4 separate regions of the Homo sapiens genome follow, and all the other regions are linked to region 1. The links come from fine-mapping of genetic effects on gene expression. A gene starts in region 1. Each other region holds a variant in brackets. All regions are shown on one strand. Distances are between the middles of the regions. Region 1 holds the start of MTG2 (mitochondrial ribosome associated GTPase 2). Region 2 overlaps MTG2 (mitochondrial ribosome associated GTPase 2). Region 3 overlaps CDH4 (cadherin 4). Region 4 holds the start of HRH3 (histamine receptor H3).

The links.
Region 2: its variant is fine-mapped to the expression of MTG2 in whole blood (TOPMed, PIP above 0.99).
Region 3: its variant is fine-mapped to the expression of MTG2 in prefrontal cortex (GTEx, PIP 0.99).
Region 4: its variant is fine-mapped to the expression of MTG2 in left ventricle (GTEx, PIP above 0.99).

Annotation. Positions count from the first base shown.
Region 1 is chr20:62,179,290-62,187,388 of GRCh38, forward strand. It overlaps MTG2 (mitochondrial ribosome associated GTPase 2), which reads left to right and starts at 3,739. Exons shown (of 7, transcript NM_015666.4): 1 at 3,739-3,768. It overlaps SS18L1 (SS18L1 subunit of BAF chromatin remodeling complex), which reads left to right. Exons shown (of 11, transcript NM_198935.3): 11 at 1-3,225. RefSeq lists silencers at 3,368-3,557, 3,597-3,781, 3,788-3,957.
Region 2 is chr20:62,198,304-62,206,402 of GRCh38, forward strand. MTG2 (mitochondrial ribosome associated GTPase 2) reads left to right here. Exons shown (of 7, transcript NM_015666.4): 5 at 331-549; 6 at 816-954; 7 at 2,380-5,265. The coding sequence ends at 2,774. Among named protein-coding and RNA genes, the nearest start is that of HRH3, 18 kb to the right of the region's middle. The variant G/T (reference allele first, on the strand shown) is at 4,849.
Region 3 is chr20:61,315,721-61,323,819 of GRCh38, forward strand. The region is part of intron 2 of CDH4 (cadherin 4); the gene reads left to right. Among named protein-coding and RNA genes, the nearest start is that of CDH4, 68 kb to the left of the region's middle. RefSeq lists an enhancer at 1,543-2,418. The variant G/A (reference allele first, on the strand shown) is at 4,095.
Region 4 is chr20:62,212,741-62,220,839 of GRCh38, forward strand. It overlaps HRH3 (histamine receptor H3), which reads right to left and starts at 7,538. Exons shown (of 3, transcript NM_007232.3): 1 at 6,981-7,538; 2 at 5,751-5,917; 3 at 2,220-4,186. The coding sequence starts at 7,230. The coding sequence ends at 3,266. RefSeq lists an enhancer at 1,583-2,083 and a silencer at 7,643-7,752. The variant C/T (reference allele first, on the strand shown) is at 3,608.

The sequences.
Region 1 (8,099 bases):
GTGACATGTTGGTTACCTGTTCGCCCAGTGCCACGTCTGCATGTGAAGCGTGCTCATTTCATGCTGGGTATGACGCCGAGCGCACACCACTGGCGTGAGACAGCGCTTGGTGGTGTGATACTTTTGGTGCTGTGTATAGTATTGTATGTCGGTACACGGAGAGGTATCCTTTTTTTGTCCCCCGCCCCCTTCTCAATGTTTCTAGCTAGCTTTGGGGGTCATTTTGTCATCAGAGCATTCTGTGCCCAGGGACAGGACAGATCTCGAGGACACCACAGTCCACCTGTTCCCGTCAACAGACGTTAGGTCTCATTTTCCTCCTCATGCAGTGTTGTAGTGTGGGTTGTCAACTTTTCTTTAACTGGCTACGCCACAGCTGGACACACATGCAGCCCCTGGAGGGCAGCCTCTTCCTGTGCCTCGATGGGGTGGGTGGGAGGGCATCTTCTGTGCGTTGGGTCAGTTTCTGTTACGTAACGAAAAGGATAAACATCTCCCACGGGAGAGGCCACAGATGGCCACTTCCAGAGCTTGCCCATTGCCTGTCTCTCGCCAATTCCGTTTATCCAAAAAGGTACATGTTTTTGTATTAAAAAGTAAACAGGGATCAGTGACTGTATTCCAAATAAATATGAATCCCTAAGGGCCGTGGACAAATTGCCTAACCCAGGGCCAGCGGTATTGCTGAAGGAAAGGGGCAGCTCTCTGGGAAGTGGGCCCTCAGAGATTACTCTGGCTTTGACCCTTGTTTAGCTGATGGTCATTTCTGGGATTGGAATATTTAATAAGCCCAATTCTAAGTTGATAGGTAATTTTAAATATTCAAACCAAATCTTCCCAACAGTTGGCAAGTTGTTTATTTTATATTATTTCTTCCAGGACCTACTTGCTCAGATCTCCAAGCAAGCATTTCTTTTCTTTTAGGGATGTCTGAAAGTCACATCCAGTTACATTACTGTGTTCTTTCTAATGAAAAGTAAAGGTTTTATATAGAGAAACTTGAGTAATTTTTACATTTCTAAGACATTAAATCCCATTTAAATTCTGTGTGAACATTAAAGACAGCACACTTGCAAAAGTATGGTCAAAGGAAAAAAATCCCACATTTCAATTAACAAGTAGCATGGACATTTGATCAACCTTTAGTTGGAATAATAATATTCATATTTGCTATGAATCCTTTTAAAAAAATCTTTGGATAAATGCTGACAGATTTCCAAGAACTACCAAGAAAATACAAGAGATATCCAATGCTTGATATATGAGGCCTAGTAATAACGATATTTCTCTTTAATTGATGTTTTGTTTTAAAAGTTAAAAGTAATTCTTGGCGTGGTGGTTCACGCCTGTAATCCCAGCACTTTGGGAGGCCGAAGCGGGCGGATCACCTGAGGTCGGGAGTTCGAGACCAGCCTGACCAACATGGAGAAACCCCGTCCCTACTAAAAATACAAAATTAGCCAGGTATGGTGGTGCATACCTGTAATCCCAGCTACTCGGGAACCTGAGGCAGGAGAATGGCTTGAACCCAGGAGACAGAGGTTGTGGTGGGGCAAGATCGCACCATTGCACCCGAGCCTAGGCAACAAGAGTGAAATTCCGTCTCAAAAAAATAAATAAATAAATAAATAAATAAGTTAAAATTAATTCTTTATCCAGAGTCGGGTGCTTTAGAATTTATAAGTCACTTATGTGTTTTGCTTGAATTAATTCTGACAGCCCCTATGAGGAAATCTGGAGGCAGGTAACAGTTCCCATTTTAGAGATGAAGAACTGAGGCACAGATTAAAGGACTTGCCTGTGTTGAATACCAGTCCTGTTCTAGGACATTCTCCCCTCTCCTAGGAGACGGATGTCACGCACAAATGGGGAGAGAAGTGTTTATTTTGTAGGCACTAAGGGTTTCTAAAACCCTTAACACTGGTAAGGGCTCAAAAATAAACGTATGTGTTCATATTCGATCACCGAAATGAGAGTTCTTAATTGCTAATTGACAAACGCGTTAGCAATTTCAGTTAGGGAGTCATCTCCCTTGATTGTGTTCTTTTCCTGTCAATTTTCATAGACCTAATTTGCAAACTCAATCGGGGACTAAAATTTCCCACTGAAAATGTTAAACATTTTAGATAACTGTGAAGATAGTTTATTTTTATTCCTTGCCAATCTGGGAATATGCCTTTTTTGTGTGTTTGTGTGTTTTTTTAAGTGCTGTATTAATAATACTTTCTGAAAGAAAAGGACACTTACCCCAAAACTTCAATCTGAAATGTCTTACATTAAGAATATCTTGAATGTTGTGTATATATTTTAAAAAGCACTTTGCAAAATAGTTTGTACATTTATTTCCTAATTTATACATGATTTTTGGTGTTAATATATTTAATGATTAATAACAGAATGTTTATTTAATGTGCTGTCCATTTTTATGTAATATTATGGGGAAAGTGATGCCAGCAGTTCCTTTTCATTATTCTATCTTCTGTCATATGAATGTTGAGCAAAGCTTAGGCCAACATGAATTGTTTGTGAAGTGTGGTTGATGGTGCTTTGTTTTTTTCTGACTACTTCTATGGAAGGCCAGTGAAGAAGCAAAGGAAGACATGAAAATTGACGCTCATTCTTCTTCCTATTGTTCCCTGACATCCAGCAAATTGTGAATTTGAAAAATGATGGCCAGTTTTCAGAAGTGCTGACAAATTCATATTGGTATGCAAAAGCTCATCACCCATTAAGGTTTGTTGTTGAATCAACAGTACTCAGCATATTAAAACAGTACATCAGAACTCATGCCAACAGTCTTTATGATGGGATTAAGGTGGACAAGATCTCCTAAGATCTGTGAATGGGATTAAGGTGGACAAGATCTCCTAAGATCTGAAAAGAAACCTTAATACGCTCATATGGTTGGAGTGTTAAGTGAACCTCTGATTTTGTCAGGGTTTTTCTACGTGTAGGCGTGAATAGGGGGCACCCCTTCAAAACTGTACAAAGAAGACGACTGTTTTCCATTTCCATTTAAACATTTTTAGCCACTTCATTTCTATTTATTGAACAGGTCAAATTTGTCTTGTTATTTGTGAGTACAGTACATTTAAAAAACATCCTTATCGGTTATTTTTTTTTCAGTCGGAGTTTGACGTATAAATTGTTTATGCTTTTGGTGTAATCTCTTAATAAACTGGTTCTTCAAAAATCATCCTATAAAGTGAGTTTTCATGAAGTTAACGGGATTTTGGTGTGATGTGTTTTGCAAATACTTATTACCGAGACCAGGTAGATCGTCACCTCGGCTCCCGGGCAGAGTTCGCGTGCGTCCGCACCGGATTCCCCGCGGCGGCAAGGCGAAGCCAGGGTAAGGGCGGTGGGGACGGCGCCCCGGGGCTGCCCTGCGGTCCCCACTGCCTGCTCTGCGTTGCCCCGTAGCCTCCTCGGGCAACGGCGGTGTCCTCGTCAGACCCGGGAGGTTCCGCAAACGCCGGAGGGGTCAGAGAAGCTGGGGGACCTTGGGCACCGGGTGGAACGGGCGGGGCGGCTGTCCTTGTGCTCGGGCAGCGAGGGCGCCGGCGAGAAGCGCGGCTGCAGCTGAGCGCTCCGCATCCCTCCTGCCGTTGCTCCTGCTTCCGCTACCAGGGACAAGGTCGCCTCTCGGTCCGTCGGCGTGTTTTCTGCACCTGCGCACTGGGCAAGCCTTGGGCTTCCGGAGCCAAAAGGCCCCGGAAGTGGTCGGCCGCTTGCGACGCTCCGGAAGTGACGTGCTTTCCCGAGCCGGTGAGTGCGGGAGCGGGGAGCGGGGAGCGTGGGCCTGGGGGGTGGTCGCGGCCCGGGCGCAAGGAGGGGCCTCGGCTTGGGCCGCGGGGTACCGGGGCGCTGGGAGCGGGAGAGGCCCCGGCCTAGGAGCTGAGAGGCCTGGAGGGCTGCCGGGCTGCGAACCCCGGCGGGACCGAGCGCTGCGGCCCTGGAGTAGCGAGCGCTCGGGCGGTGGGGAGCGGCGCCTTGCTCCCCGGTCCTGCCCCACTCTCTCCGCAGAACCGCGTTTTGGGGTCAGAAGTCTTGTCAGCCACCCCGGTGGTGCTCTGTCACGGGATGGGTGCCGTGTGTGAGTTCCGAGTCAAGTTGTTAGGAATTTGCCTTGATCCAGCGCTCTAAGTATTAAACATTTTAAAGTGATTATTGGCAGTATACAGTTGCACAAAACAACATAAATATATACACATTTGGATGATAAAACAACAATAAAGTTTTGTATTGTAAACGCGCCTCAGGGAGACGCATTTCCAGATAATTCACTGTCCGTGGCTGGCTTCTGCCCAGTGAGAGCGGGTTACCCGTTCTATTCCCATTTACGTTCTCGTAGCTGTGGATACCGAGGAACGGCGTTCACACAGACCTGTAGGTGGGAATTAGAGGGGTTGTTGGGCAGTGTCACTAGAGAAATACCTTTCTTTTGTAAAGGGGAGGACCCATTATAAAAGGGGGACGGGAAAGGAGAATTCAAATTGTTTTAAACGCAGGTTCGTCCTCAGGCAGTTCTGTTTTAGCAGAGAGAACGTAGCGAAACTTGGGCAGAAAATGGATTCCTTTGAAATTATCCTGGCCTTAGTCCCTTGGGAAGTCTGTGTAGGCGAACCTCAGTGAGAAGATTCCTGCCGTAAAATGCAGGTGTCAGCAGCATGCCAGGGAGGCCAGAGGATACTATGTGACTTTGGGCAAGTGACTGAACCTCTGTGAGTCTCAGCCTCCACTGCTTTAGATGGGCATAAAAAATGTAAAGTCAAGAATCAGGTTTCCGCTGGGCGCGGTGGCTCACGCCTGTAATCCCAGAACTTTGGGAGGCCAAGGCGGGCAGATCACGAGGTCAGGAGTTAAAGACCAGCCTGGCCAACATGGTGAAACCCCATCTCTACTAAAAATACAAAAAAGTAGCCGGGCGTGGTGGCAGGCGCCTGTAATCCCAGCTACTGGGGAGGCTGAGGCAGGAGAATCGCTTGAACCTGGGAGGTGGAGGTTGCAGTGAGCCGAGACCGCACCACTCTGCTCCAGCCTAGGCAACAGAGCGAGACTCTGTCTCAAAAACATACCCAAAAAAAAAAAATCAGGTTTCATGCTCACAGGAGGATTTGAGGAGGGTTTATAAAGGGACCGTTTGCAAAGGCAGAGTGCAGGTTAATGACAGTTGGTCCTTTAGCCTGGAACTGGTGGCAGTGGAGTTTCTACTCCTGGACTCCAAAGGATCAGGGAAGGCAGCAGTGATCGGGACAGGGAGAAGAGTCACTGGGGAGGGCTTCTTGGACTGGAGGTGTGAGCCTCAGTCTGAGTGGGCAGGGAGGTCCATGTCCCGGCCTCCTGCTCCTGCCTCCAGTCTCTGGTAGAGGGCCAGGTCCCAGTAGGTTTTCCTATGGGGCAAGCTCAGGCTCCTGACACACAGCACAGGGCAGGGTGGAAAGCTGGTCTGGAAAAGCAAATGGAAGATAGCTCGGCATGCAGTATTACCCCTCGCAGGGTATTATCGTTAGGAATACATTTAAAAGTGGATATATTGGTTGGGTGTGGTGGCTCGCGCCTGTAATCCCAGCACTTTGGGGGGCCGAGGCAGGTGGATTTCCTGAAGTCGGGAGTTCAAGACCAGCCTGGCCAACACGGTGAAACCCCGTCTCTATTAAAAATACAAAAATGAGCTGGGTGTGGTGGTGGGTGCATGTAATCCCAGGTACTCGGGAGGCTGAGGCGAGTGGATCACTTGAACCCATGAGGCGGAGGTTACAGTGAGCCAAGATCCCACCATTGCTCTCCAACCTGGGCTACAAGAGTGAAACTCTGCCTCAAATAAAAAAGAAAAAAAATGGCCAGGGCGTGGTGGCTGATGCTTGTAATCCCAGCAATTTGGGAGGCTGAGGTGGGCGGATCACGAGATCAGGAGTTCAAGACCAGCCTGGCCAACATGGTGAAACCCTGTCTCTACTAAAAATACAAAAATTAGCTGGGCGTGGTGGCATGCAGCTGTAATCCCAGCTACTCGGGAGGTTGAGGCAGGAGAATCCCTTGAACCCGGGAGGCAGAGGTTGCAGTGAGCTGAGATCATGCCACTGCACTCCAGCCTGGGCGACAGAGCGAGACTGTCTCCAAAAAAAATAAAAATAAAAAATAAAAAATAAAATATATACACATACATATATATACATGTATATGTATGTACACAAATTAGCTGAGCGTGGTGATGGGTGCCTGTAATCCCAGCTTCTTGGAACGCTGAAGCACAAGAATTGCTTGAACCCAGGAGGCGAAGGTTGCAGTGAGGTGAGATCATGCTATTGCACTCCAGCCTGGGAGTGAGACAGAGTGAGACTCTTGTCTCAAAAAAAAACCTTTCTGTGATGAGGGCAGTGTTCTAATATGTGCTGTCCCATATGTACCCACTCGTGACATGTGGCTGTGTGCACTTAGATGTTACCTCAGGGACTGAGTTTTTACATTTCAGTTAATTTTAGCCAAATGGCCACATTTGGCCAGTGGGGACTGTGCTGGACAGGTCAAGGACAGCCTTGTTGGAAGGAAAATAAAGACACCAAAGAGCAGCGTGAAAACAGTGGGATTTGTTCATCCGGCAGGGGAGAGAGCACAGCACTCAGCGGGCCTCCAAAGAGAAATTGAAAGGGCAAAAAGGAGGAAGCAAATTAGGCAAGACTCCGAGTTCAGGTCTCTGGTTGGCTTTGCAACCTTCTCTGCGGTTGATCTGCAGGTTCCATGTCACCTGCATCAGGAAGCCTGGTTTCCAGAATATCCGGGCTGGATGGTGTAACGTTCCAGCAGGCTGAGCCGTGGCTATGCTTGTGTTGATGAGCCCGAGTTGTTTTTCCCCAACCTGTTTTTATGCACCACCCCTGAGCCTTCCCATCTGATAGCTCTGGGTTAAGTCTCTTCACCTGTCTGCCCAGTTTCCGCAACTTTAAAATGAGGATGATGAAGGACTTACTTCACAGAGTTTTATGAGGACTGAATGAGTTAATCCCTGAAAAATACTTAGAACAGTATTTTGCAAGTAGTGAGGTAGAGGTCTTGAAGGTTTACTGTGAAATTATTTTCAGGTACTTTTTGTATTTGGCACTACCATAAATGGGGTTTTTTCTTAATTTTAATTTACAGTTGTTTGCGGCTGGTATTTAAGAATACAACTGATTTTTTTATATTAGCCTGATAACATGCCATCTTGCTCAGTTCCCTTCCCTGGGACTTTTTTTTTTGTTTTTTTTTTTTTTTTTTGAGATGGAGTCTTGCTCTGTCACCCAGGCTGGAGTGCGGTAACGTGATCTCGGCTCACGGCAGCGTCTGCCTCCCAGGTTCAAGCGATTCTCCTGCCTCAGCCTCCCGAGTAGCCGGGACTACAGGCACGTGCCACCACGCCTGGCTAATTTTTATATTTTTAGTAGAGATGGGGTTTCACCATGTTGGCCACGCTGGTCTTGAACTCCTGATCTCAAATGATCCGCCCACCTCGGCCTCCCAAAGTGCTGGGATTACAGGCATGAGCCACCGTGCCCAGCCTTCCCTGGGATTCTCTGTGGAACTCTGTCCTCTCTTCTGTAAACAGGGACAGTTTTACTTCTTCCTTTTTTCCCCCTTTATTTCAGTGTGTGAAAGGACATTGTTGCATAGCAGTGGTATGTGTGGAGGCCCTTTTTCTCCATCTTGGGAGGTAACCATTCAGTATTTCTTCATTAAATGTGATTAGCTGTCGGCCGGCCCTACGTAGTGCCCTTATCAGGGCGAAGATGTTCCCGTCTGTTCCCAGTTTGCTGAGATGTTTTGTTTTCCTCCTCATGAGTGGGTGTTGAGACGGTGGTACCACCTGTTGATATAGTGAAGTGCCTGGGCTGAGTTTTGACTGCTTGATGTGGCCTTGTGTTCTGAGATTACCCCTACTAGGTCTTGATGTGTGATCCTTTCTGAACTGCTGGATTCAATTGGGTAATATTTTGTTAAGAGTTATTTGCATCTATATTCATGAGGGGTATGGTCTATAATTTTATTTTTTCTTAGTGTCAGATTTTGGTACTAGCCTCATAGGATGAGTTGGATAGTGATCTCACTTCCTCTATTTTCTG
Region 2 (8,099 bases), 19 kb after region 1:
GCGGGCCTGCGTCTCCTTCGCGAGCTGAATTCACTCGTCTCTTAGATGTTTTTTCTGGTGCTTCAGTTCACACTAACGTTTTAGAAACACTATTTGAAAAAGCCCTTTGTGCAGTCAGAAGGGTGTGTACGCAGCCCCGTGAAAGCCCTGGAGCACTGGGACCTTTTCCTTGTGCTCCGGAGCTGTTGGCAGAGGTGAGTGGGGCGGGCAGCTGCCCGGGGCACAGTCCGCTCTTGTCTTCTTTCCTTAGCGCTTGCTTCAGGAATGGGTTAAGGCCTCCTTTCCTCACTGCTGGTAGAGCTCAGCTGATGAGTGCCTGCTGTTCCCCAGGTCCCCGTGGGCACGCTGGTGAAGGAGGGAGGCAGAGTTGTGGCCGACCTGTCTTGCGTGGGAGATGAGTACATTGCCGCGCTGGGCGGGGCAGGAGGGAAAGGCAACCGCTTCTTCCTGGCCAACAACAACCGTGCCCCTGTGACCTGTACCCCTGGACAGCCAGGACAGCAGCGAGTTCTCCACCTGGAGCTCAAGACGGTGGCCCACGCCGGAATGGTAGGTGTCCCCACTGCCAACAGCATCTGCACACACTCAGCTCTAGAAAATCCACTTTTCTCAATGGGGATTTGCCAGTGGCCTGGAAGAGAACAGCTTTGCGACTCACCTTTTTCCCATCAGTACACTGCTGACTTGGTCGTGAGCATGAGCCCTTGTGACTCCCCCAGCCCTGAAATCCTCCCTCCAATCCCAGTTAGTTACAGACTCTGCGCTAACAAAGGTGCTGCCGCGGGCCGTGCCACCGTCTTCCCTCTTTCCCCCAGGTGGGATTCCCCAACGCCGGGAAGTCCTCACTGCTCCGGGCCATTTCAAACGCCAGACCCGCCGTGGCTTCCTACCCGTTCACCACCCTGAAGCCCCACGTCGGGATCGTCCACTACGAAGGCCACCTACAAATAGCAGGTAGAACTTCCAGAATTCTCCCAAAGGTTAGATTTAAATGATGTAATTCAGAAAAGTAATGATGTAACTCTTAAATTTAGCTTTCTGTTTAAAATGTAGCATTGTTGGCCAGGCGTGGTGGCTCACACCTGTAACCCCAGCACTTTGGGAGGCCGAGGCAGGCGGATCACGAGGTCAGGAGATCGACACCATCCTGGCTAACATGGTGAAACCCCGTCTCTACTAAAAATACAAAAAAATTAGCTGGGTGTGGTGGCGGGCACCTGTAGTCCCAGCTACTTGGGAGGCTGAGGATGGAGAATGGCATGAACCCAGAAGGCAAAGCTTGCAGTGAGCCGAGATCATGCCACTGCACTCCAGCCTGGGCGACAGAGCGAAACTCCATCTCAAAAAAAAAAAAAAAAAAGTAGCATTGTTTTTCCTAATGTAAACAACTTTTTTTTTTTTTTTTTTTTGAGACGGAGTCTCACTCTGTCACCCTGGCTGGAGTGCAGTGGTGCGATCTCAGCTCACTGCAACCTCCACCTCCCATATTTAAGTGATTCTCCTGCCTCAGCCTCCCAAGTAGCTGGGATTACAGGCGTGCGCCACCACGCCCAGTTAATTTTTTTGTATTTTTAGTAGAGACGGGGTTTCACCATGTTGGCCAGGCTGGTCTCGAACTCCTGATCTCAAGTGATCTGCCCCCCGCCCCACCTTGGTCTCCCAAAGTGTTGGGATTACAGGCGTGAGCTACTGCACCTGGCCCTAATTTAAACAATTTTCATCAGCCTGTTCTCTATGAAAATCAGGTTCCCACCCCATCCCCTAGGAATCTGTCAGTTACAGTTCAGAAACCTGCATTGAAATTCCAGCCGAGGACAGTATTTCTTCCCACTCTATTTGTCCCCTCTCATCTGTGGAAGCTCAGCAGCATCACAACACGTGACTTAAAAGCTTTCCTTGTGCCGTTTGAGAGAATAAAACTTTTTCCCAGAAGACAATACACCCATTAAAAATAGTAAGCCTGCTGGTAAGGTTATTTGGATGGCACTTTATATCTGCAGAGTACTCTACATGTAAATTTCTATCAGTAATCAAATGATTAGTAGAGTACAGGCAGCCATTTTCCTCTTTTTTGAATCCTATTAGAAGCAGAAAGAGAAGGTATGAAATGTACTCTACTAGATAGATCCATCGCCACGCTGGTCTCCCAAACATCTCCAAGCATTGAATTCCTCAGGTGTCAGTTGGCCCAGTGAATCACCCAGGTGCTAAATCAAATGGCTTCAGTTCAAGGCGTTCCTTGAAAGGAAAGTGTTAGAACTCAGGAAATCCGCCTTCGCAGTGGGCTCCAGGCCTTCTCTCCCAGGCTCGAGGTGGAAGGCGCTCTTGGGTGCTGGGTGTGCCAAGTGGTCACCTCGTGTGCCCCTGTCTTCCCTGCAGTGGCCGACATCCCCGGCATCATACGAGGCGCCCACCAGAACAGGGGTCTGGGGTCCGCCTTCCTCAGGCACATCGAGCGCTGCCGCTTTCTCTTGTTCGTGGTGGATCTTTCTCAGCCTGAGCCGTGGACTCAAGTTGACGATTTAAAATATGAACTGGAGATGTATGAAAAGGGCCTGTCTGCGAGGCCCCACGCAATCGTCGCAAACAAGATTGACCTCCCTGAAGCCCAAGCCAATCTGTCCCAGCTCCGGGATCACTTGGGACAGGAGGTCATCGTGCTGTCGGCGTTGACCGGCGAGAACCTGGAGCAGCTGCTGTTGCACCTGAAGGTGCTGTATGACGCCTACGCGGAGGCCGAGCTGGGCCAGGGCCGCCAGCCGCTCAGGTGGTAGCCACGCCAGAGCGGGGTCGCCTCTGGGCCTCTGTCTGAGCAAACCTGGGTGTGAATTCGGTGGTTTTGAATGCATAAAGTGCCTTGTGGACACGGGGGAGTTGTGGTGCTTCTGGGTCTCTGGGCCCCGCCTGCTGGCCTGAGATGCCCTCATGTTGGGAAGCATTCCGTGCCCCCTACCCCGCCTGCCCTCCGTATTTCCTGCACCTGTCAGCCTGCACCGACTGATGAGCCAGTTGCTCATTTGTGCTGATTAACACCCCTAATAAGGGGTTGGGGTGCCCATAACGGGGTGGCCCTGCCGCTGACTCAGGTCTCCGCCATGCACGCGTGGACTCTCGGATGAGCTCAGCAGAACCGCACAGCCAGAGCCCCAGGTCAGAAGTGCAGACCAGGGTTCTCAGCACAGTGCCCGTCGTGCTTCCATGGCTTGCTACGGAGAGAGACCTCTGGATCCACACTGGGGCTGCGTCTGGCCCGTTGTCCAGCAGCCCTGCGGTACCGCAAGCCCAGGCACCAGTGTCTCGGGGGGCCTCACTGCTGCGCAAGGGGTGGGGCCGAGGATGCAAGTCCAGGCAGAGCGGCGCAGGCAGCTGTGAGCTTTTCTCCATCAGCCGTCTGAGAAGAGCAGTGAGGCCAGCTGCTTCCTGTCCTTCAGAACACTTCTCTGTGCTCAGTGGGAGCCAGGAAGCCTCAGGCTTCACGACTGAATGCACCCAATATCCGACCTGGCTGCGTGTTTCTGGCTGGGCTGCCGTGTGCACAGCAAGTTAACTAGAGGGGCTGTGGGCCATGGAACTGTCAGCGTTATTCTCAGAAGGCGGCCGTGGCATGGGCAGGGTATAGTGAGGAGTGGAAGGAGACGTGTGCCTGGTAATATGGGGCGGAATTTCCACTCAGCTCCATTTGCTGGGGATTTAAAGAGAACCCTTGTGCTACGCCAGGCAGTTACCGAGCCGAAGGGAGATGATGGGCCTTCGCCCCTCAGTGGGATGGCAGCTGAGGGGGCCCTGCATTTGACCGTCGAGACTGCAGCAGCGCCTTTCCTGTCTGTGGTTTAAGTCTTTGCAGTCAAGTACTGATGCATCCAAGCCAGGCCCATGCCTGGTGTCTCCCTGACTGCAGAGGAGCCCCAGGGCAAGGACAGCTCAGCTGCTGGCAGCCTGCCTGGCCCATAGACATCCCCCAAGTAGTCTCAGGCCTCTGACATGTCCCTGAGGGGCCCCTAAGAAAGAAAGTGGAGGGGACACTCCAGAGGCTGTCGTGGGAGGATCATGTGAGCCTGGGAGGTCAAGGCTGCAGTGAGCCGTGATTGCACCACTGCACTCCAGCCTGAGTGACAGAGCGAGACCCTGTCTCAAAAAACAAACAAACAAACAAACAAAAACAGAACATTCTGGGCACGGTGGCTCATGCCTGTAGTCCCAGCACTTTGGGAGGCCGAGGCTGGTGGATCACAAGGTCAGGAGATTGAGACCATCCTGGCTAACACAGTGAAACCCCGTCTCTACTAAAAATACAAAAAAATTAGCCAGGCGTGGTGGCGGTCACCTGTAGTCCCAGCTACTCGGGAGGCTGAAGCAGGAGAATGGCGTGAACCTGGGAGGCGGAGCTTGCAGTGAGCCGAGATCACACCACTGCACTCCAGCCTGAGCGACAGAGCAAGACTCCATCTCAAAAAAAAAAAAAAAGTGGAGGGGACAAAGAAGCAGAGAAGGATGATCAGAAGGGGACCCCCAGCCCTTGGAGGAGAGACGGCAGCCTCAGGTGAGATGAGCCGCAAGGGTCCGGGGCCGCGTCTCTGCACGCTGGGGTGGGGCGCGCTTTGCACAGCAGGCCGGTGCCTGGGCTTTCAGGAGCAATTCCGTTTTGATCTCACATCAAATCTGCAGCTAGAACATGACAGTCCTTTTACCCGAAGCTTTATTTTAATGTCTTATAATTTCAAAGGTCCTTCTATCCTAGAAACCAGAGATGGGTTTTGCATCTATTTGCTTTTTCTTTCAGGCCGCCACAAAGGATTTTGTGGAGTCGCCCCAGGCCTGACGGCGTTAATTATCCCTGGCTTTCATCTT[G/T]ATGCTCTTGCAGGGGAGGCTCAAGATGCCTTGTGGCTCGACCCCTGCACGGAGCCCCCAGCCCAGCCTCCCCGTGGGTTGAAACCTTGATCTGGGCCTGACTGTGGCTGCTCTGGGGACATGCCCTCGTCCTTTGCTGAAGCTGAGGCTCCAGAGGGGGAGTCACTGCCACGAAGGTTGCCCAGAACTTTCCTTGCTGCAAAAAGCCCCAAGACTTCTCCCTGCCACACACACAGCTTTTGCCATCGCGTTCTAAAAGCTGACAGCTTTCTCTCCAACACTGTTCTCCCTGAGTAGGGTAAAGCTACACTTGGCTTCCCCAGTTTCCTGTTTCCTGCCTAGAAACAAATTTTTGTCAGTCTGCTTTTCAAATGGGATATATGATTCACATACCATAAAATTCACCACTTTATATAATTCAGTGGTTTTTTTGTATGTTCAGAAGGTTGTGCAACTGTCAAACTGCAAATTCCAGAACGTTTTCATCACCCCGAAAACAGACCCTGTGCCCGTTAGCGTGAACCCGCCTTCCCCCTCCCCCGGGCACCCACCCGTCTACCTTCTGTCCCCAGGGACCTGCCTTCCAGACAGATCCTGTAATTGGAGTGTACACTATGTGGCCGTCTGTGCGGGTCTTTAGTAGCCATGCCTGAGGCGGCCGACACCGCAGTCTTTAGTTACGGAAGGGACCGCGGGTGCAGGCCAACCCCCCCACAGTCAGCATGTGTGGGCTGCCTTGGACACAGGGTCTCTGTGTATCCCCAGCAGCCTCAGAACACCTGACCCAGAGACGGCGTCAGTAAGCGCTGGCAGGTGCACGGAGGATGGCGCTGGCATGAGGAGCCTTCAGGCTGCTCCTAGTTTTAAACTATTTTTACTTTTGTTTTTATTTTTTTAAGACAGAGTCTCACTCTTTCGCCCAGGCTAGAGTGCAGTGGTGCGATCTCGGCTCACTGCAACCTCTGCCTCCTGGGTTCAAGCGATTCTCCTGCCTTAGCCTCCCAAGTAGCTGGGATTACAGCCTGCACCACCACGCCTGGCTGATTTTTGTATTTTTAGTAGAGACAAGGTTTCACCATGTTGGCCAGGCTGGTCTCGAACCCCTGACCTCAGGTGATCTGCCCACTTTGGCCTCCCAAAGTGCCGGGATTACCGGCATGAGCCACTGCGCCTGGCCTGAAACTCAGTGTGTGTGTGTGTGTGTGTGTGTGTGTGTGTGTGTGTGTGTGTGTGTGTGTGTGAGAGAGAGAGAGAGAGAGAGAGAGAGAGAGAGAGAGATGGAGTCTCACTCTGTCACCCAGGCTGGAGTGCAGTGGCGCGATCTCCACTCACTGCAACCTCCGACTCCTGGGTTCAAGCAGTTCTCCTGCCGCAGCCCAGGTGGGGTGGAGTCTGGGTGCCCTGGGGCCCTGCCACCTTCCACTTGGACACGGGCGAGGAGGGGTTTGCCCTGAGCATCCCCTGTAGAAGCCCAGCTCCACAGCAGCGCTGTAGGAAAACGTAGTGTGTCCATTTGAAAATGAAGTTTTATCTATTCCTTATTAGTCTCCTGGGGCTGCTATGACAAAGTGCCACAAACCGGGTGACTTAACAGAAGTTGGCCGAGCATGGGGGCTTACACCTGTCATCTAGCGCTGTGGGAGGCCGAGGCGGCCGGATCACCTGGGGTCAGGAGTTTAGGACCAGCCTGGCCAACATGGTGAAACCCCATCTCTACTAAAAAATATGTAAAAATTAGCTAGGGGTGGTGGCCCATACCTGTAGTCCCAGCTACCCAGGAGGCTGAGGCAGGAGAATCGCTTGAACCCCTGATCACTTGAGCCAAGATTGCGCCACTGCACTCCATCCTGGGCGACACAGTGAGACTCTGTCTCAAGAAAAAAAAAAAAAAAAAACAAAAAAAACCTAAGTGGATTCTCTTGTTTGTCGGGGGTGAGGCCTCTCAAGGCCAGGGAGGTCCTTCCTGCTCCATCCTCGGCTAGCAGTGGCAAAGGCTCCCGTCCCTGCCCTGTCTTCATGTAACTTCCCCCTGTGTGTCTGTCCTCTTATCTTCTGGAAGCCAGTTGTGGGATTTGGGCCTCTCTAAACCCAGGATGGTCCCATCTTGAGATCTTTAGTTACATTTGCACAGACCCCATTTCCAATAGTGATATTCTGAGGTTCTGTGGATGTGGATTTGGGGGCACGTTGTTTGACCCCAAGCAATGTCCCTTTCCATCTTTTTTTTTGGCGGCGGTGGGGGTGGTGCAGAGTCTTGCTCTGTCATGCAGGCTGGAGTGCAGTGGCGCGATTTTGGCTCACTGCAACCTCCACCTCCCAGGTTCAAGCGATTCTCCTGCCTCAGCCTTCTGAATAGCTAGGATTACAGAAATGTACCACCATGCCCAGCTAATTTTCGTATTTTTAGTAGAGCCAGGGTTTCACCATGTTGGCCAGGCTGGTCCCGAGCTCCTGAGCTCAGGCGATTTGCCCGCCTCAGCCTCCCACAGTGCTGGGACTGCAGGTGTGAGCCTCCACTCCCAGCCTCCCTTCCCATCTTGTGGTCGTGTGTGCTTCCCGGCGCACGTGCTATACTGAGTTCAGTCTCGCGTGGGGCCTTTGCCTCCTCACCTCGCCAGCACAGCAGCTCTGCCCTCGGGTCCACCCCAGGTCCCGCCATGCCTGTCACCTCCACCCCGCTCTGGACGATGGCAGTGGCCTGCTAATGTCTCCCCTACTTGGTGCCCGGGCCCCTCAGTCTTCCCCTGTGGCTGTGCCAGGAAGCCAGGCCCCTCACTGGGAGTCCCTGGTGCCCACAGCACCAGCCCCACTGCCCCTTCCTATGTCTGAGCCATGCTGAGGCCACTCCTTGGACTGCAGGCTTTGGTGTTGCTGATCCCTGTGACCCAGTGCCCTGCCCAGACACCCCGTGAAATGCCCTCTAGTCAAAAAGCCAAAGACAGCCACACGCGCCCAGGCTCTGCACAGTTGGGCCCACCACCCTCTCGTGCACGCACTTTCCACACTTCACGTTAGCCGCCGTCGCCCCCCCGCCCTAAGCTCCTGGAGAACAGAGACCTCGTTTGTCTGTATGCAGTGCCCGGGTCGGCGCTGGCCCCGGGATGGAGGCCTGAAGGGCAGACATGCTGAGGCAACCGGAGCGTCTCATCAGTGAACACACGTGCCGGGGACCTGTCCTGGTGCCGCTAAAGAGGCTGCAGAGCCGCGGGGTGCGGCAGTGCTTGGCGGGGGCGGGGTGCAGCTCTGCGTGC
Region 3 (8,099 bases), 860 kb before region 1:
TAAGACATGGTCTTGCTCTGTCACCCATGCTGGAGTGCAGTGGTGCGATCATAGCTCACTACAGCCTCAAACTCATGGTCTCAAGCAATCTTTCCACATAAGCCTCCTGAGTAGCTAGGACTACAGGTGTACACCACCATGTCCAGCTAATTTTTTGTTTTTTGTATTTTTTGTAGAGATGGGGTCCCACCATGTTGCCCAGGCTACTTTCAAACTCCTGAGCTCAAGTGATCTGCCCCTGGGTGGAGGACTTCCAAGGGAACAGGCGATTTCCACAGGGCCCTGGAAGCTGGGTTTCTGATGCAGGCACTGAGGGGCTCTCCAGGGGGAGGAAGGATTTGGCAGCTTCCCTTTGAAGACAGGACTCAGTTTTCCTAATTCACGTCCTCCTCTTCCTCCTGGGTGCTGTTGGCAAGTTCCTTTGGGTTAGGATGGGGCAGGTTTCAGGGCAGTCTATGAAACAAGAAATGGAAGTTTACTTCCCAAACAGAAGGGCAATTTTGGATAGACTTCTTGACAGATCTGCATTTTTCAAAATCCAATCCATCGGAAGAAGTTAGGACAAGGAAAATCTAATTTTCTGGAACATCGGAGATGGAAAAGGCACTGCGGCCCGCAGATAGAGACCGCCGCGCTGACCTAAGTCGATAAGTTGAAGGCTCTAACAAGTTTGAAAAAGTCCACTTGGCCCCCTAAATCAAGTTCAGGCGGCAGAACAAATGTGTTGTTCCAACAGAGACGGAACAAACCTTTGGCTGGGAGGAAGAATAAAGTCATCAGCTCCCTCTTATCAGGTTTCTGTCTCTCTCCCTTCCCATCTGCCATCTGCTGCATCCTCGAAGCAGGGATCGCTTTGCTTGTTAAAGGGAAAGTGGTTGCTTTTCAGCGCAATTAATTTAGTAGGCCACAAATGTTGCTGACTGATGGGTGGAAGGTTTGATCAAACAGATTGGTTAATTGGTAGTGAAGAAATGCTGGCCATGTGAAAAAGGATGAAAGTGAAGTTGGACTTTGCTGTCGTTAGAGCCGCCGCCTCTGCTTTTCGGGTGAGGGGAGTTTCTCTTTCTGAGTCATCGTTGCCCAGAGCTGGGGCCTGGCCACCCTTTTTGTTTTAGCCATTTGTACAGCATGATAGTCACAGCCGAGAAGCAGGGCTGGGTGGGGAGGCGCCTGGACGTGGGTCCTCCAGCCTCCCTCAGGTGCGTGCAGCCTCTGTACCTGAACGTCTGGCAGCAGCCTTTAAAGACGTGCCTTGCAGTGGAGTGATAAGTCTTGCACGTAACCTGCTATTTCTTTTTTTTTTTTTAGTTTATTTATATACTTATTATTTTTATTACTATTTAGAAATCTGAATACCATGTTCAAATATATTTCCTGGCCAGGTGCGGTGGCTCATGCCTGTGATCCCGGCACTTTGGGAGGCCGAGGTGGGTGGATCACGAGGTGAGGAGATCAAGACCATCCTGGCTAACACGGTGAAACCCCGTCTCTACTAAAAATACAACAAATTAGCCAGCTGTGGTGGCGAGCGCCCGCAGTCCTGGCAGTGACTTGATCTTGGCTCACTGCAAGCTCCGCCTCCCGGTTTCACGCCATTCTCCTGCCTCAGCCTCCCGAATAACCTGCTATTTCTAACATGGGATAAATTAAGGCGCCTTTGCCACTGAGTCTCCAGGTGCCTGCACTGTAAATTCTATCAAATCTGTTTGCATTGAAGTGTTTATTAGCAGCCCCCACCCTCGTGACCTGATTGGATGGGGAGGTCTGTGGCCCATTGCATCTCCCAGCTCACGTGCCTGCCAAAGCCTGCATTCACCATTGCTCCAGACCAGGTTTCCTGACGCCACAGGCATGGGGGGCTGGATGAGTCTGTGGTGGGGCGTCCTGTGCACTGTATGGTGTTGAGCAGACTCCCAGGCTGGCACCCACTGGAGGCTGGTAGCACCCCTCCCCTAGGTGCCACAACCAAAAATGCCTCTAGATGTTGCCCAGTGTCCCCTGGGAGCAGGGACCCCCTTTCCACCATGCCCGAGACCCCCACGGTTCTAGACAAAGGGCACTTCTGGGAAGCGTTTTTTCCGTGTGAATTTGTGGGTGTCCAGCCAGCCAGCAAGGGTGAATTTGCACGAGTTTCCTCAAGGGACATGTCAGAGTGGGGTAAAAGTAGAGTTAATGCCCCATGGCATTTAGGGAAAAACAGAATGATCCAGCCATTGCAACTGTGAAGTGTTGTGCACACTTATTGGAGGAAAACGCCAACTGTGTTTGTTCTTAGCAAACCTAAATGGGTAGAGGTTAAGAGACCCAGAGAGACTAAAGGGCTGGAGGGTGGTTTCCTGCTCTCCGTCCCGGCTGGAGGGACACTTTTCACCTGAAACCTGGAGGTGGGACCCATGCGCCCCCACCCTGTGCTGTTGTGGTGGCAGGATGTGTGAAAGGGGAACTCACCATCCTAATAGATGTTAAACTGCCCGGCTCCTGTTTAGACAGCAGTTTGCTTTGCGTTGACGACTCTCCCGTATGTTCCTCTCCATCTGGAGTGAAGTTTCCCAACAGCCCCGGCTTTGCAGAAGACACCAGCCTGGGATTCACAGTGCTCAGCTGACCAGCAGTGAGTGCCAGCGGATGCAGCCTTGGGTTTTGTTTGATCCTGTCCAAGATTTACTGCTTTGAATGATTCAAAAACCTAAGCGTGTGACAATGATTTGAACTGACGTTCTTTTTTTTTCTCCTTTACCCCTTGCCTCATCTCTTAGGATTAACTGGGACTCTCCTAAGAAAACCTTATCCATTTGGTTTTATTATTAGATCATGAATCGGGTAGGGATTGCTGGAGGCTATGATGTGGGCATGCGCTCTAGAAGGGCACCATGGTCCAGAAGGCCTGGTTCGTGCCCAGGAGGAGCCTGGAATCAGTGATACTCAGTCAGAATACATGCTCAATGCATAGCCACTGATGAGGAAATTAGAAGCTCAGTGAGGTCAAGAAGCGTGTTGAGCTCTTTGGCTTTATGTTATTAATTACTACCACTTGTTTGGCACAGAGAGAGTAATCCCTGGATATGCACTGATTGAGTTGAAGTGGTGACTTGCCCCTTTTCCCATGTAATGTTTCTTTTCATTCGTTTATTCACAAATGCCCAGTCACCCTCTCTGTGCCTGCCACTGCACAGATGCCGGTGGTAGAGAGCTGGGCAGAGACCCCTCCTTGCCCGCAATGATGCTGCCATCGGCCTGAGCCATGGTGGGGCACCACACACTGATATGGAGATGCTGCACACCATGCATGTCACATGATGCCGTGATAAACAGATGACTTAGTTTCCACGATCTTAACAGGTGACAGCACTGAGCGCTTGCCCTGTAGCTGCCAAAGACGCTCACCTCATGGTCCTTAGCTCAGCCCTCTCTGTAGTATTACAATAAGCATAATAATATAACATATAAAAATATAACATATAACATGTTATAATAAATATTATAATATATAATAATACAATAAGCAGGTGCATTATTATCCCCATTTTACAGGTGGGGAAACTGAGGCTCAGGAAGGTGACGTGTGTAGGGCCAAAAGGACACACTGGGATTGCTAACATTTCCCAGGTCAGAGAATTCATCGATTAAAAATTCCCTGTTATGCTCCACCGGGAAGCAGGGCTAGATCGCACTGTTAAGAGTGCATCACATGTGCAGCCTCATTCATCCGTCCACCTTGTGGGCTCATCAAGGCTTCCGTATCTTGGCTTTGCTGAATAATGCTGCAATGAGCACGGGCATGCGGAGGTCTCTTTGAGATCTGATTTCAGTTCTTTTGGATAAATACCCAGAAGTGGGATTGCTGGATCATATGGTAGGTGGTTGCCTGGGGCTGGGGCAGGGGAAATGGGAAGTCACTATTCAAGGGATATAAAGTTTCAATTATACAAGATGAATAAGTTCTGGCTGGGCACAGTGGCGCATGCCTGTAATCCCAGCACTTTGGGAGGTGGAGGTGGATGGATCACTTGAGCCCAGGAGTTCAAGACCACCCTGGCCAAAACATGGTAAAACACCATCTCAATTAAAAAAAAAAAAAACAAAATTAACCAGGC[G/A]TGGTGTCAGGCACCTGTAGTCCTTAGCTACTCAGGAGGTTGAGGCGGGAGAATCACTTGAACCTGGGAGGCGAAGGATGCAGTAAGCCGAGATTATGCCACTGCACTCCAGCCTGGGTGACAGAGTAAGACTCCATCTAAAAAAAAAAAAAAATGGTGAATAGATTCTGAAGATCCACTGCAGAACATCCAGCCAATGGTATTTTGTTGAGCACTTGAAATTTGTTGAGGATAGATCTCATGTTAAATGTTCTTCCCACAATAATTTTTGCAAAATTGCTCGTATTTTTGCAGCATCTCCCAGGTGGGACTGTTCCCTCTCTGCATTTATTTGGGCCTCGGTGTTGCTGATGTTGCAGGGCCTATGGATTTCCAGAAGAGCCTGAGGGTCTCTTCCCAAGGCGTCTTATGCATGCTGACTGTGTCTTCTCCCTGCGTTCCTTGTTTCAGTTTTTGTCACGATTGTTCATTTGCTCATTCAACCAGCATCTTTGAGCATCTGCCGTGGGTCAGACCCAGTGCTAGGCACAGGGTGTCATTTTTCTAGTCCCTGGGGGCTCACAGCCTGGTGGGCAAGAGGAGCACCAACCACAAAACCATGCAGGTGTGGGTGAGACTGGAGTGTCGGTGGGGTTGGGTTGGCCTCCACAGGGAGCGGTGACCTGGTGGTCTCAGCCACTACCATGAAATGTTTTACTTCAGCCAGAGGGTCTCAACTGGGACAGTTCTGCCCCCAGAGAGCACTTGGCAATATCTGGAGACATTGATGTTTGTGAGTGGGGGATGGGGGTGCTATTTGCATCTGGGAGGTGGGAGCAGGGGTGCTGCCAAGTGCCCTACCCAGGGCTGCCTCCCAGCAGAGAACCCTTCAGCCCCAGGTGTCAGCACTGCTGAGGTCGAGGAAGCCTGGCTTTAGTGAGACCTGAAGATGAACAGGAGCCAAGCAGATGAAGAGGCAGGAAAGGGGCCTGGGCAAAGGGAGCAGCGTGCGCAGAGGTCCTGTGCTGGGAGGGAGTGTGGGGACACGGCCAGGTGGCTGGAGGGGTGGGCAGGGCTGTGGCGTGAAGACAGTATGTGGGCAGGGCGGGGTGCACAGGCTCCAGGCCTAGGCGGGAGCCAGGGGAGCTCCTCTTCCTGCCCCTGCTGTGGGGAAGTGTCCCAGGTCTCTCCTCCAGGCTGGCTCTGTCCAGCTGCTCTAGCCTTTTAAACCCCCGGGTCCTTCCCCAGGGTCCCCTGACACCGTGGGTCCTCGGTGGGGTGGCATTGACCTACCTAGTCCCGCCTGTGGTCAGCCACACCGCACATTTCCACCTCGAGAGCGCATGCGAGAGAGAGGAAGAGAGAGAAGGCTCTGTGGGTCTCATTAGTCGTTGATTGAGGTCAGAGAGCTCTGGCGTTTATTTAACTCTGCAAATTAGAACAGTTAATTTCCTGGGAAATGAATAGAGTCTTCTCATTGATCTAGGGAAGAGCGGGTTTCACCTTAGGAGGGCAGAGGGAGGAGGCGAGGCAGGTTCTGCTAATTCCAGAGGCGGGGTTACTCTTAACAAAAAACGGCTTGATTATCTTTGCTTTTTTGCTGGAAATTTTTTTTTAATTTTTGATGTCTTAAAAAATATAGCCTTGGAATGCTAATGTTGTTAAGTTTTCCTTAAAACATTTCACATTGTGTGTGTGTGTGAGAGAGAATATAAGGATTTTTTTCCACGGGTCAGTGTGTTTGGAAGACACCACGTGGCCTCATCTCCCTTGGGTACTTGGGTACCTGATGTATGTGCTGACACCTTCCATGTAGACGTGCGGTGAGCGGAGGACTTCCGGCTTCGTCAAATTCAGCCGTTGCCACTATTTGATGGCAGAGCCGCCTCCCTGGAGTAGCCTGCAGAATTGGTGCTTCTCAGCACAGGCCTGGGAGATGCTGCGTGCCACGCATGTCACATGATGCCGTGATCAACAGATGACTTAGTTTCCATGATGTTAACAGGTGACAGCACTGAGCCCTTGTCCAATAGCTGCCAAAGACGCTCACCTCATGTTCCTTAGCTCAGTCCTCTCTGCAGTCTTACAATAAGCATAACAATATAACATATAAGAATAATATATTGTAGCATATATTATAATAATAAATATTATATAATAATATAACAAGGAGCTGCATTATTATCCCCATTTTACAGGTGGGGAAACTGAGGCTCAGGAAGGTGACATTGAACATGAAACCCCATGCTTGAGGTTACGTGGTTGGTCAGAGGTCCCCCCAGGATACGAACCCCAGGATTCGGGTCCAGCAGTTCTTCCGGGTCCTTGTACTTGCTTCGGGGATGGTTATTTATTCATTCAGTGCAATGGGGTTGGTGCCGTCTGTGTGCTTTGCACTCTGCTGGCCTGTGGTTGGGAGCTAACGTTCCTCATTTGACTAACTACCCCCCATCCCCTCCAACTCCCCACATACACAGGAGAGGGGAGGCTGCTAATTCTGCACCTGAGGCTTCGCCTGGCTCTGTGGGTGCACCAGGCTCAGTCTCTCCCGCAGCAGCTGGGAGGTGCCGGCATCAGGATCCGCAGCCCACACCTGCAGCTGAACTGAGCGGAGACCTGGCTCCTGCAGTATCTGAGCCGCCTCCCCTTTCCTTCCCAGACTGGCATGAAGGGAGAAAGAAGTCAAGATTCTCTGTCTCCCTTTACAGCCCAGGATGAGTCCCTTCCTTGGTGCCTGAATCCCCTCCTGGGTCCTGGTGTGTGCAGTGGCTGTCACTGCAGCATTCGGGATCCTGGGGTGTGCTGAGGCAGCAGGAAGCTGTGCCCAGAGCAGCTTTTGTCCCAGAGCCCTTTCCAGGCAAGGCTGTTTGCCAGCCACACAATATGTTCACTTCATCCAACGCTGAGACGCAGCCACCGAGGGGTAGCATCCTGGAAGGAACAGATAGATGGCAGGGAGCGGAACACTCACAACTGGAGAGGAAAGTGACAGACTGGGGTGGGGGCCCCTGGTTCAGTTCCCAGTGGACTTGTGCAGAGGCCTTTGATCGCAGCAGTGCATTTCTTCAAGAGTGTATTGGATGCTCTTCACACAACAGGCTCTATCCCTGGTGTCCCCTTTTATGTCCCAGGCTGTCAGGAGGTCTTGTTATCTTTTACAGATAGGAACACTGAGCTCTAGAACATTCAAGGATCCTCCCTGTCATTTCACAGGTGCAGAGTTGAGACTTCCAGCCAGCATCCAAGGGCCTGAGCTTATCTGCCCAGGACGCACTGCCGGATATACCCCTCGCCTCTCCAAATTTGAGTATTAGGAATGACGGTGGCAAGAGGATAGCAAGGAGGCATGAGGATTCCCTTGCGGCACGGGGTCTTCTGAGAGTCAGCTGGCTTTCCCTAGGGGAGTGTGCACCTAGAGGACTTCTCTTCGTTAGGAGTGATTGCCACTAGCTGCAGGGCAGCCCAGTGTCCCGAGTGGGTGGCAGGTCAGCCCCTGTCCCCTCGTCTTGGCCTCTGCATGAACTCATCACACATTTGTTCATCAGCCTGCCAGGAGGGGATGTTTGGGAAAGTCTTCATCGAGTGAGTGCTTCACCTCCACCAGGCATTCATGGCTCACGTGCAGCCTGATTGGAAAGTTCTATTCAGTTGGCTGAATCCATGCACAGGAAGAAACAATACACCAAACACAAAATAATGTGTGATGCCTATAATTCTTTGGCCACCTGACGTCGGAGCCAGTGACATTCAGCTTCTGCCACCATTCTGTCATGTTACGCGGGCCTGCAACCCCTCCCCACCCCTGCTCCCTGACGGTGATAATTTACCAAGACTGGCGTCTTCGTGGGTGTTTTAGTCACCAGTTCGGCAATCAGAGCACATTCTGGATGCTTGGGTTTCTAGGTTGGGGCCACAGGGACTGTGGCTATGCAGGAACACTGAAGGGGGCTCTCCCTGGAGAGGAGGGGCCTCTCATCTTGCCGTCACCTTTAGTACATGCAAAATGGGTTTGTTTTAGCTCTTGAG
Region 4 (8,099 bases), 33 kb after region 1:
AAGGCCCAGGTGTCCCCAGTCTTGCCCCTCCCTCTGTCACTAAGAGGGGCCTTGTGTGGCTTCTGCCCAGGAAGAGGAGCCTGTCTCGGAGGGGTCACTTGAGTGTCTGGGAGGCAGTCAGAAGTCCAGGAGCCGGAAGGAGAGCAGGGATGGGGGGTAAGGAGAGGGGGGATGGGTGGGGGAAGGAGAGCAGGGATGGGGGGGTAAGGAGAGGGGGGATGGGTGGGGGAAGGAGAGCGGGGATGGGGGGAGGGAGAGTGGGGATGGGGGGTAAGGAGAGCGGGGATGGGTGGGGGAAGGAGAGCGGGGATGGGTGGGGGAAGGAGAGCGGGGATGGGGGGTAAGGAGAGCGGGGATGGGTGGGGGAAGGAGAGCGGGGATGGGGGGTAAGGAGAGTGGGGATGGGTGGGGGAAGGAGAGCGGGGATGGGGGGGGTAAGGAGAGCGGGGATGGGTGGGGGAAGGAGAGCGGGGATGGGGGAGGGAGAGCGGGGATGGGGGAAGGGAGAGCAGGGATGGGGGGTAAGGAGAGCGGGGATGGGGGGTAAGGAGAGCGGGGATGGGGGAGGGAGAGCGGGGATGGGGGAAGGGAGAGCAAGGATGGGGGGGAAGGAGAGTGGGGATGGGTGGGGGAAGGAGAGTGGGGATGGGTGGGGGAAGGAGAGCGGGGATGGGTGGGGGAAGGAGAGCGGGGATGGGGGAGGGAGAGCGGGGATGGGGGAAGGGAGAGCAGGGATGGGGGGTAAGGAGAGCGGGGATGGGGGGTAAGGAGAGCGGGGATGGGGGAAGGAGAGCGGGGATGGGGGAAGGGAGAGCAGGGATGGGGGGGAAGGAGAGCGGGGATGGGTGGGGGAAGGAGAGCGGGGATGGGGGAGGGAGAGCGGGGATGGGGGAAGGGAGAGCAGGGATGGGGGGGAAGGAGAGCGGGGATGGGTGGGGGAAGGAGAGCGGGGATGGGGGAGGGAGAGCGGGGATGGGGGAAGGGAGAGCAGGGATGGGGGGGAAGGAGAGTGGGGATGGGGGTTGGAGGGGGGTGTGGAGCTTCAGATTCTGGGAGAAGTTTCCGGGGAGTTTGGAAAACAAAAGTGCAGGTCTAGCTTCTAGCTTCAGGGCGTGAAAAAGGTCTGGAGGTGAGGCATTTTGCTGTTAGCTTCCCCTCTGCAGTGCTGAGAGCCGGCATGGCTGGGAAGCGGTGCTTTGAGGGGGAGATGCAGGTCTCCCTGCCCAGGTGGACCCTCCACCCACCCCCAGCACTGGCTGTGAGAGTAGCCAGAAAATGGCGAGATTCTCTCCCTGGGTAGGAAGGAAAGATATGAGCAGAAGCGTGCCTAGCAAGGCTGCACTGTCGGAAGTAGAGTGGGCTCAGAGACGTCAGGACCCTGGAGGCTGGAGCTGGGGGACGGGACGTTGGGGGAGGTGGCACCTGGCCCACCGAGTTTGCATCTCACCTAGGTTGGGCTTGTCTGGTTTCCAAGTGGCCTCTGAGCACCTGGGTGTGGGCCAGCATCTGCCTGGGTTCGGGCTGGTGTCTGCCTCCCTCTCCTGGGGCCCCTGGAGCAGGTGCAACGGCCTTCGGGATTAAAGGCTCACGGGCCACAGCGAAGGGTGCTACCTTCCCTCCCTCCATCTTCCTCCCAGCGTCCTCATCCTGCACCCTCAGTCCCCCCTCCAGGCCTTTGTCCAGGACAGCTCCTCTCCCAAAGATGCCTTCGCTCCAGGGCTCATCCCTTCTAGCAGCCCCTCCAGCCTAGCTCCAGCCAGCTAGCCCAATCCCTCCCCTCTGGTCACTGCAGTCCCTTTGCCACCCAGACCCTGCACACGCTGGGCATGGCCATGATCCTCCCTGGGTCCCAAGTTTTGCTGGGGTGCAACCCTGCTCCTGACCAAGAAAGATGAGGCACCTGTCCTGGGGGCAGGAAGGCTGCATGTCTGTGTTCTCAGGGCCAGAGCGGGCCCCTCCTGTGCAGGGCGTGGGCTGCATCTCCTCACCCGCCAGCCAGGTCTTGAGAAGTGCAGGGGTCTGGCGGTAGGGCACATGAAACCCTTCTTGGGATTAAACCCTGGTGTGGCAGGCTGGTCTTTCATCCCCACTGCAGTCCCCCGACTTAGAAGAAAACACAGAGCCCTCATCCTCACGCCTGCTTCTCAGTGGTTTCTGGACTCCCTGGAGTCTCTCCTCAAAGCACGAAGGCTCTGAGCACCCCACAAAGTCCTCAGGAATCAGCACCAATAAAAAAATACACTTTATTGTGACCTCACGGTTTGCAGGGCAGCGCAGCGGGCACAGGCAGAGGAGCATGCAGAGCGCGTGGCACGGGTGCACAGCACATGGCGAAGCGGCCCCTGCCCGGGCACCTCCTCTGGACCGCCCCTGCACGCCTTGGGACCCTCGGGCCCAGCCGGGCCCCCTCCTCCCAACAACCCCCAGAGGTCCTGGGTGAGCAAACAGAGTGGCCGGGGCAGGCTTGGCCACCAGGGCTGGTGTGAGCCCAGAGGCGGGGTGGGCAGAAGCAGCTGGCACAGCTCAGCCGGAAGCCTTAGCGGAGGGAGGAGGGCGTGGGAGCCCACACCTGCCAATCCAGCCCTGAGCTCCTCAGCAATTTTGTCTCTCTTGATTAAACATCCCAGGAACATCAAGTTCACAGACATGTTTTCTTCTTCATCTTTCTGAAAACACCCAGAATGGAAAAGCAGAGAACAGCTTCGAGGTTCCTAGGGCCCCTTGACACTTTTGGGGGCAGAGAGAGTTGGTGGGAAGAGGGGTGAAAGGGCCAGGCCTGAGGCTTATGCAAGAGACAGAAGGCAGCAAAGGCAGTGTCCTGGGCTTGTCCGGGGAGAGGGACGGTGTGCAGGTGTGTGCAGGGGTGTGCAGGTGTGTGCACGTGCAGAGGCAAACTGCTAGGGCAGGAAGCCTGGAGCACACCCAGGTGCTTGCTTTGGGAAGAACACCAACCAGTAACTGCGAAGGGTGGGCACCAGCAGGGGGTGGGCAGCATGTCTGGGACCTCCAGACTGTCCCTCCCGGTGGAGCCAGAATGTGGGGGGCAGGGCCGGCCACCCAGCCTCCAGTCCAGCCAGTGAGGGGCCCTCTGGCCAACCCAGGAAGGCGCCTCCATGGCAGGGTGGCTGCCGTGGCATTAAGAGAGGGCCACAGACACGGCGGGGCTCACCCCTGGGGGAACGAGCCGGGTAGGGGGCAGCAGGGCCAGATGCCCAGGAGACCTGGGCTGAGAGAGGCGTGGCTGAGGGAGGCTCTGGTGGGCCACTCACTTCCAGCAGTGCTCCAGGGAGCTGTGGGGCTGGATTTTGAGCTTCTGGGGGCAGAGCAGCTTGGTGAAGGCCCGGCGGAAGCTGTGGTGGCACAGAGGGTAGAGGACAGGGTTGACAGCCGAGTTGGCCCACAGGAGCCAGAAGGAGGTTTCGTACCAGTAGTCAGGGACGCAGTGGCCATGGCAGGCGGCCCGGATGATCATCAGCAGCGTGTATGGGGCCCAGCAGAGCCCAAAGATGCTCACGATGACGGCCAGCGACTTGGCCACTTTCCTGTCCCGAGACAGCCGAAAGCGCTGGGTGAAGCTCTGGGACACCATCTTCATGCGCTTCTCCAG[C/T]GAGGCCGAGGACGCCGACGGCTTGGAGCCCCTCTTGAGTGAGCGCGGCCTCTCAGTGCCCCTCGAGGAGCTGCCGGAGCTGGAGGTGGGTGAAGCCACGGAGCCGCCCCCACCGCCACCCCCGAGGGTCGCCTCCCCGGCCTCAGCGCCTACGGCCGCCTCACCCACCCCATACCTGTGCAGCGGCATGGCCTCCCCGTGCCCCTTCTGCCAGCAGCCCCAGCAGCCAGGCGGTGGGGGTGGTGAGGGCTGGGCCTCGGGAGGGGGCTCGGGGCCGGCTGCCTCTCGAGCCCCATCCAGCCGGAGGCGGGTGCGCCTCTGGATGTTCAGGTAGATGCTGAGGTTAAAGAAGGTGACGCTGAGGAAGGGCGTAAAGAACTCCAGGGTGGAAGCCGTGATGAGGAAGTACCAGTTGTAGAAGAACTCGGCATAGCAGTGGCCCTCGGGGATGGAGCTGCCCCCGGACAGGTACTCCCAGCTCAGGATGGCTGGTCCGTACAGCAGGAAGGCCAGCACCCACACCAGCAGCATCTTCCGCACTGCCCGCCGCGTGTCACCCTGCTGGGCCCGGTATGAGACCTGCAGAAGGGCAGGCTGGTCAGGGGCGGGGCGGAAGGAATATTGGGCTGGGTGCGCCCCCGTAGCCTGTGGGCCCCTATGTGGGCCCTTCCCTCAGCAGCAATGCTCCTCCTTTCCCCTCCTGTCCTCCCTCCCTCCCTCTTTCCCCTCCCTTCCTCTAACCCTCCCCACTGGGGTCCCGGACTGGTGCCCTGCCACACTCAGTGAGAGCCTCAGAAGCTCCCTGGGACCAACCTGAACCCTCACTCTCTGCTAGGCTGCCTGTTTACCACCCCCTACCAGCTGTGAGCTCCCTGGGGGTCCTGTCCTTGGCCCCTGCACCCTTGGGACCAGACTCAGCATCAGCCCCAGACCACGTGCACACACAGCTGTTTCTGACATGATGCATCCTGATCCTGCAAAGGCCCGAGCCATCTGCAGAGGTTGGGGTGGGAGGTCCAGCCCCACTCCTGCACAGGTGCTCGCACCCCTGGGAGCTGGAGGTGCAGGGGTGAAGCCACAAGTTGGCCCACTGCTGGGAGACATCCCCCGCCCCGCCACAGAACAAAGCATCCCAGATCGACATCAGGGCCTCTTGGGAAGAAGAGGGAGAGAGGGCAGGGCCCTCCTCAGGGCAGAGAGCAACCAGCTGGTGGGGGCAGGGGGCAGGAGGGCCAAGGGATCCCACTGAGGGGTCTCAGGTAGGACAGCTCGAGGAGGAGGACCTGAGAGCCCCTGCCACCCTCCCCCACCAGCCTGATGGCGTTTACCTTGGTGACGGTGGGAGCAATGTTCACAGCTATTGCTAATGAGAGGTGGGCAGAGCACCCCCATGCCAGGCTCTCTGCTCGGCCGCTTTACCCTTCGTGGCAGCTCTCCTTGTGCCCCATGCCTGGTGGCTCCAGGAAAGGAGGGAGAGACCACAGGGGGATGGGCTCAAGAGGAACCCAAAGCCATGCTCTTTGCACCCTGTCTCTTAGCCTTTCTAGGCTAGAACCAAACAACCTGCCCTCAGTCCTGCAGAGGCCCTCATAAAGCCCTGGGGACGTGAGCTGCCAAGGAGATGAGAAGGGGAAGGTGTGACTTCAGCAGCGGCTCCCTGGGCTGCATGGCCCCGATGCGGGAGCCTGGGTGGGGCAGGGTCCCTGACTCAGGTGGCCGCTCCCACAAAGGGAAATCTGCGGAGCCAGGATCTGCCGCCTGCCTTCCCGGGGCCTGTGTGTGTGTGCACGCTGCACACACGCATGTGGGAGGGATGTCACCCAGGGCGTCTGGCCCCAGATCCTCCCTTAACTCCGGGGACTGTGGACCTGCCCCAGGGCGGGGGCTGCAGCGACAGCCCTGCCTTCAGGACCATCTGCATCCAGATTCCCCGTCTCCTGCCTGGGCCAGGTCAGTCTGGCTGCAGCCATGGCCCCGAGTGGGCAGCTGGCCGTCGAGTGGCCCATGTGTCAGCAGCAAAGCCAGTGGGACCAAGCCCACTTCTGCCCACAACTCAGAAGTGGCCGTCCCCACCCAGGTGCCTCCCATGGGCGTCCCGACTGTCCCTGCGGAGTGAACAGGAGCTCCGCAGCCCAGGACTCACCGCTCGGGTGACCGACAGGAAGCGGTCGTAGCTGATGAGCACGATGTTGAAGGCAGAGGAGGTGCACAGCAGGTAGTCCACTACCAGCCACAGCTTGCAGAGGCCCCGGCCGAAGGTCCAGCGGCCTGTCAGCACGTAGGGTACATACAGTGGGATGCAGAAGGCGCCTGTGGGGAGTAGGGCCACAGTGGGACCATGCAGCCAGGGGCCAGGGGACAGACGGACCTAAGCGCAGACACCGGCGGGACCTGGGGTCACATGGTGGCTGCTTTTCTGGAACTAGCCATCCTCATCTTACCACCCCTCCACCTGGTGTCAGCCACAAACTCTGCCCTGCCGCCAGCCTTCACCCCCACATAGCTCCCAGCACTATCTGTGTCCCCTGGGCCTGGGGGCAGGAGGGATGATCCAGGCATGGGGAACTCTGGCCACCACAAGACCCCCGAGAGCCTGGAGTCGGGATTCCCTGGACTTCTGTCCAGCCCTCCCAGCCCTCAAAGGAGGAAAGAAGACAATTTCCTTCTCCCCTCCCCCGCTGGACTCCAGCCCCTACCCTGGCGCTGGACAACCCTCGGTCTCAGCTTAGACAAGGAGAAAGCCTTTCTCCTGGCTGAAAGGGCACTTGGTTGCAGCCGCCAGCCGCCAGCCGCTACTACTACTGCCAAGCGGGCTTGGAGCGTCTGGGAGACGCACCTCACAGCCCCAACAGGTGTCTGGCGCTCCAGCCCCCTCCGCGTGCCCCGCCCCCCAGCCGGCAGCAGAGCCTGGACACGTGAGAGCACGCTCCTCCGAGCGTCTCCCCCAACCCCCACCTTCCCCACCGTCCCTTCCCCCAACACAGCTCTAAAAATCCCCCTTCCATGTCCCCTCCCCCAGACCTTCTCTAAACCGCCCCACTGCGCCCTCCGCGCGTCCTAAGTCCGCAGCAGCCTTTGTTTGGCTACAGCGCAGGAGCCAGAGCTGCACCCGCTGCCTTTGCGCCTTGCGCCTCGCCCAGTGCCCGTGTCCCTTCCCGGGGACATCTCTCCCCAGCCCCTGTCCCGAGGCCTGAGTGGCAAGGAACTTCGCCTGTGCCCCCCACCCCATGGGCTCCGGACGCCCCCTTCCCAGGCCGGGTCCCCTGGTGGGGCGTGTGCCTGCGGGAGCCACCCAGGTCCGTGTTCCAGTCCCCGCTGGCCCGGCCACGCTGGGCGCCCCTGGGTCCCCAGCGGCCAGGGGCTGGGGATTTACCGACGAGGAAGTCGGAGATGGCGAGGTTGAGCAGGAAGAAGTTGTTCTGGGTGCGGAGGCTCGAGTCGGCCACGAAGGCGAGCATGACCAGCGCGTTGCCCAGCACCGTGGCCACGATGAGCAGCGCCATGAGCGCGGCCAGCACCGCGGTCCAGGCTGCCGAGAAGCCGCGCGCCCCGCCCGCCGCCGCCGCCTCGCCCGCCAGCGCCCCCGAAGCGTTCAGCGGCCCGTCGGGCGGCGCGCGCTCCATGGCCCCGCAGGCTCACGCGGCTCCGGGACGCGGGGCAGGGCGCCGGCCGAGAGCTGGGCGGCCGGGAGGGGCCCCGGCCCGGGAGCCTCGTCTTTGCGGGCCCTTGGCCGGGTCGGGTTCCCCTGGGGGCGCCCAGCGCATGGTCCGCGGGGCCGGGGCCGGGGCCAGAGCAGGCGGTGCCGAGGGGGCCGGGGCCGGATCCGAGCCCAGTGGGGCCGGCAGCGCGGCTGCTGCAGCGGGAGAGGAGCCGGAGCCTGAGCCGCTGCCGGTGCGACCGTGCAGCCGGAGCGCAACGCGCAGCCGAGTGCGCCCCGCGCCCAGCCCACCGCCCCGCGCGCCCCGCGCAGCGCCCCCGCCATTGGCTGCCGCCCTCGCCCCGCCCCCTCCCCGCCCCCGCCCCGCCCGGCGCCGGCAGCACCACGGACAGCGCCGCGTGCCCGCCAGGCTGCCTGGAGCCCAGCCCCTGCGCTCACAGCAGCTGGCTGGGAGCCCGGCCGGGGCTTGACCGGGTCTGGGGGCTCGCCTGCGGTCAGTCAGCCCGCGCACTCGGAGCCGGGGTCTGGGTTGCTCGGCCTTTCCCGTGCCCTCGGCCCTGGTGACCCCTGCCCGGTCATCATGGAGAGCCCTGGCGCCTGTGGGGACCCGGGGTGGGGGTGGGGGAAACGCCTGCACCCGCGCTCCGGGGACTTGCCCTGCGGGGCATTTCCTCGGTGCATGTTTTGGGAATGTGGGTCTCCGGGGCAAGGAACGTCTGGAGGAGAAGGGATGGGGAGGAGGGGGTCTTGGAAAGCCGGTGCCCAGACCAGGGGTCCGCTCCACCTCCCGTTTGCACGGACCCTGGGTGCCAGCCTCCGTGTGGACAGGGCCCA